2 separate regions of the Homo sapiens genome follow, and region 2 is linked to region 1. A link means that fine-mapping ties the variant in region 1 to the expression of a gene that starts in the linked region. Tissue or cell type: whole blood. Region 1 holds a variant in brackets; the other region holds the start of a gene. All regions are shown on one strand. Distances are from middle to middle.

Region 1 (2,842 bases):
GTGTCTAATAAATTGCATCCCTTTCTCTAACCTCTGGTTGTAAAGTTAAAGACTTTCAGCATGTAACTTTTGCAAGATGCCTGGTCTGCCATTGGCACTTAAATATTTGTTGTATTACGATTTATAATATGGTTCATTATATATAAAATTCTGTGATGACTTCCAAAAACAACTGTGTTTTATCTGGTGCATTTATTTTCTTTCAAGCCAATGCGGGTTTACTTTTTTCTTCTAGCTTACATTGTAATGTGGCTCACACTTGTGGAAGTGTGAACTGCAGAAGGGAAGAGTGTAGGCTGGAAAGGATGAGATTCAGAGGCTCTTGGAAACACTGTTCTATGCACAGTGATGGCGCGCAGAAGAGAAATGAAAGCAGGCCTCAGGGGGAAGGTCTGTATCAACCCCACGGGAGCTGCTTGGGCAGTGGTCAGTGGGCATGGGGCTTACACCCTCTTGGCCTCAGCTGTCTCATTAGTTGAGTGAGAATAAGACCATTTGCTTCACAGCATTGTTGGGAGGATTCAAGGTGTGAAAGTTAACTACAAAGAGATTTATGAAACCAAAGATATTGTTACTTTTAACCACTGTGACTTGAAGTCAGGAGTTAGTTAGGTATTGATTACATTTCTCTTTATAGCCAAACAACATGGGGGTAGGTGGAGTGCAGATATTCAATAACTGCTTTGTGGCCTTTTTTTTTTTTTTTTTTTTTTTGAGACAGGGTCTTGCCTGTTGCCCAGGCTGGAGTTCAGTGGTACAATCATGGCTCACTGGAGCCTTGAACTCGCAGGCTCGAATGATCCTCCTGCCTCACCCTCCCCAGTAGGTGGGCTACAAGCATGTGCTACTGTGCCTGGTTAATTTTTAATTTTTATAGAAGCAGGGTCCTGCTCTGCTGCCCAGGCTCGTCTTAAACTCTTGGCTTCAAATCATCCTCCTGCCTCAGCCTTCCAAAGCATTGGGATTACAGGCATGAGCCACTGCACCCAGCCTTGGACTTACTTTTAAGTAGGAAGGAACTTCATTGGTATTTGGGCCAACCTTTTACCTGATAGAGAAATAAGGGTACTCAACTAACAAACATTCCCTGAC[C/T]GTCTACTATGTCACAGCAGCAGTATTGGCTCTGCTATATATGCTTCCTCTCAACCCTACAGCTGTCCTATTTTGCAGACAAGGAAACTGAGCTTTAGAGAGAATAACTACTTTAAGGTCATACAGTCACCATCTAGTAGAATCCAAACCCTCGTCTGTCTGTTCTAAAGATAATACTTTTATCCTTTACTCCATTACCTCCCAGCGGCTTTCCCCATTCGTGAATTGGTTAGAAAATAGAGGGTCTCACATAGAGGTGTCCTGGATTGCTCCTGTCACTGCAAAGCCCCTTGTTTTACGGGTTCTAAGGTAGCCCATCCAGCTCAGCTTGGAGACTGTCTCAAGCTGTTCTGGAGGGAGGGGGTGAGGAACCCATGAGGACAGAGCTATTTTGGGGGAATCCCACAGGCCTTTATCTCAGGGTCAACTGAAAACCAGCCATGTCCAAGGTGGGCGGATCATGAGGTCAGGAGATCAAGACCATCCTGGCTAACATGTGAAACCCCATCTCTACTAAAAATACAAAAAATTAGCTGGGCCAGGTGGTGGGCACCTGTAGTCCCAGCTACTTGGGAGGCTGAGGCAGGAGAATGGCATCAACCTGGGAGGTGGAGTTTGCAGTGAGCTAAGATCGTACCACTGCACTCCAGCCTGGGCAACAGAGCGAGACTCTGTCTCAAAAAAAAAAAAGAAAAAAGAAAAGAAATGAAAACCAGCCGTGTCTCCTGTATTAGTCCATTTTCATGCTGCTGATAAATTTTCATACCTGAGACTGGGCAATTTACAAAAGAAAGAGGTTTATTGGACTTACAATTCCACGTGCCTGGGGAGGCCTCACAATCATGGCGAAGGTGAAAGGCACGTCTCACATGGTGGCTGACAAGAGAAGAGAGCTTGTGCAGGGAAGCTCCCCTTTTCAAAACCATCAGATCTCGTGAGACATATTCACTATCACAAGAACAGCATGGGAAAGACGTTCCCCCATGATTCCATGAGACCTCCCACCGAGTCCCCTCCCATGACACGTGGGAATTCAAGATGAGATTTGGGTGGGGACACAGCCAAACCATATTACCTCTGGAGCCCCTAGAAACCCAAGGTCAGTCATTTAGGGCAACTGCTCTGAGCTGGAGAAAGGAGGATCTGAAGGCCCTTACTTGATGCTCAGTCACTGCAGCACCAGCCAACTTAGTCATTTTTGTTCTCCCATTTGCCAGCAAGGCAATTCCTTCATACATTATCTCTAGGGGGTAGCTTGCATCCTCAGTGATTATATACTTAGTGGTTATAATTTTATCAGCCACAGATGAAATTCTCAACCTGTAATCATTTTTATGTTTGATAAAAGTAGGGAAAATTGTATAATGAGGAGTAAGATGTTCTTCTGGTCCCCAAGCAGTCAGTCTGCTTTACATGCAATAAATGGTGTAAAATGCACTTGTGCGCACTGAAATTTGAGAAGTACTTTGGTGCCTATAAACCACAGGGGACCTGTTAAAATGTAGATTCTGATCATTTGGTCTGGGGAGCAGGAGTCTGAATCTGTAGAAGCTTCCAGGTGCTGTGGGCCCTGGGTGCACACCCTGAAGAGCAGAGAGGTTGGCCTTGGTGCTCCTCTATAACGAGAGTCTGAAGACCTTGTTCAATTCCATTAATAATTATCTGCTACTAAGGATATGCAAGATAGATTTAAATTGTTGAGGGAGAGGATCTTGTAAAGAGATAGTATCTCAAGGTCAGAGGCAGGCAA
Region 2 (2,500 bases), 170 kb after region 1:
AAATACCCTCTAAGCAGCAGTCCCAATATCCATGCGCTACAGCTCATATCTACCCCGCTGAAGAATCCTTCCAGCACAAACTATGTACTTATTTTATGCAGTTCTAATAAGTTACTTAATAACATCTTTGAGGGTTTTCTATGTGTTTTGTGTTAAACATTTTTCTTGCATCTTCATATTCCAGCCCTGTGAGGTAACATGTCCAAGTTTTTCCATCTAGGAATTACTTCAATTCAAATTCCATTATATGTGATTCCACAATGGGTGTTATCACTACGCCATTAATTCTCAAACTTTAGCGTCCAGGTGCATTGGTATCAACTGGAAGGCTTGTTAAAATATATTTCTGATTCAGTAAGTTTGGGATAAGACCCCAAAATGTGCATTTCCAAGAAGTTCCCAAGTGATGCTGATCCTAGCGTCCTGGGATTATTTAGAAACCAATGCACTTCTATTCTTCTTTGAAAGAATACTTGCTTTCCACAGCGACGGCAGGCCTGCAGCAAACCAGAAGCCTTTAAAGTTTATTAGAACTACCTCAAAAAGACACACAACTGTGAGAAATTAGATAAAGCCTTCTAATAAGCAATTTCAAAGAGAAAAAAGAAAAGCCTGGGAGTCACTGAGTGTACTGCAGAGACCCAAACACCTCGATAATTGAATCATAACTAGGCAGGCACTCATTCATTTTGACAGTAACGCTGAGTCTTCAAAAGAGTTTATGCTCAGTTTAGAAAAACAAATAAGGCTGTGATCCGTTTCTTGTAAACGTTTATCCAAAGGTTTTTAGGGGTTGGACAGAAAGGGTTTACTTTGGCGGATTTTTTGTCCTCTAATAAAAGTTATTACTGCGGTGAGGCTTAGACTTGTTCTGAGAAACTGAAAGCTGTCCCGAGAGCACCTGAAACTGCATGCTCTGTTGCTGATGCAACGTCACTTCAAACTTCCTGCTTTCAAAAGGAACCCTTTAAACTCGCTCAGCGCCAACCCCTTCCTCCGAGTGTGGGCACGTCGTTCCCGTGCGGTCCGGCGGAGATGCGGCAACTTCGACAAGACCCCAGGTGGAGTTACCCCAGGAAACGCCCTCCCCGCTCTCGGACTTGCCCCGGACGGGGAGGCTGTGCCTCCAGCCCCGCCATGCCTCCCTCGCCCTAGCCCCCCGGGAGGCGCCGACCTCCGCCCAGCAGCCCCAGCCCGGCCGCCAGCTCCCGCAGCCCGGGGAAACGGCGAGAGATGCCGCTCACAACCAACGACAGCAGCCGGACCAAACAGACGCGGAAACTCACGCTCTCTACGACCCGCCTGCGTCCCCACGTCTTCGCGCGCACGTGCGTCATCACGCACGTTCCCGATCCGGGGCGCCCCGGGTTCCTGGGGCCGGGTGCGGGAGGGGAGGGCCTTAAAGCGGACGGCTCGGCCGCGGCGCATGCTTAGTTGTGCGCGCCCGCGCTCTGCTGTCTGCAGACCGCGTGCGCCGGCAGTGGCTCTAAGGGGGCCGCGAGGGCACAGCGGGGCAGGACCGCGGCAGAGCGCAGTAAGGAGAGTGTGGACCCTCGCCCTGTCCTCTAAGCTCCATGTGAAATGTGGATAATATTCCTTACTGCCATAAATAGCCACTGGCCGCTGACTACGCGTAAGGCAAACAAGCGACCTGCGTTCAAGGGACCCGAAGACTAGGGGAGAAGCAGCGAGCGGGTCGCGGCCGCCTACCCAACGGACGCCTCTGCCCAGGTTCTCTGCCGGGAAGCTTCGTCCTTCCGGGCCCCAGCGCAGCCGGAGGCTGGGGAGCTGCTGCCTGGAAGGGTCAGATACCGCCTGTTAGGCGGAGGGTGGGAAAGACACTCTCCTGCTTCAGGAGCTATCGCAGACAACCGGAGGGCGGCTTATCGCAGAGTCCCAGAGCCAGCCAGCAAGGCAAGGTCGCGGGTGCACCTTTCACTCCCAGAAGCTTGGGTCTGGGACTGCACCACGCAACGTTTGCCCATTTTGAGGGCTTTAGGTGTTTCATATTTCAGTTAATAGAATTTCGATTAATACATAATTTGATACCATTTTAATTGTTTGCTACTCGGGAGCAAGTTTTATGTTTAGCTGTAGGAGTTAGGCTAAGTTAAATGTTGCAATGCTATATATATTTAATAGGATATGAAAAAACTATCTTACAGCCGGGCGCGGTAACTCACGCCTGTAATCCCCGCACTTTGGGAGGTCGAGGCAGGAGGATCGCTTGAGCTCAGGAGTTTGAGACCAGCCTGGACAACATAGTGAGACCTTGTCTCTATTTAAAAAACAACAACAGGCCTGGCGCGGTGGCCCACGCCTGTAATCCCAGCACTTTGGGAGGCTAAGGCGGGCGGATCACCGGAGGTCAGGAATTCAAAACCAGCCTGGCCAACATGGCGAAACCCTGTCTCTACTAAAAATACAAAAATTAGCCAGGCATGGTTGCGGGCGCCTGTAATCCCGGCTACTCGGGAGGCTGAGGCAGGGGAATCCTTGA

What was found. PIP is the estimated chance that this variant, and not a neighbour inherited with it, causes the effect.
Region 2: it holds the start of RHBDD1, and the variant in region 1 is fine-mapped to the expression of RHBDD1 in whole blood (TOPMed, PIP above 0.99).

What each region holds. Positions count from the first base shown.
Region 1 is chr2:227,000,041-227,002,882 of GRCh38, reverse strand. It overlaps COL4A4 (collagen type IV alpha 4 chain), which reads left to right. Exons shown (of 48, transcript NM_000092.5): 48 at 1-169. Among named protein-coding and RNA genes, the nearest start is that of COL4A4, 160 kb to the left of the region's middle. The variant C/T (reference allele first, on the strand shown) is at 1,093.
Region 2 is chr2:226,834,874-226,837,373 of GRCh38, reverse strand. RHBDD1 (rhomboid domain containing 1) reads right to left here and starts at 1,320. Exons shown (of 9, transcript NM_001167608.3): 1 at 1,287-1,320. RefSeq lists enhancers at 808-957, 1,798-1,867, 1,707-2,001 and a silencer at 1,008-1,537.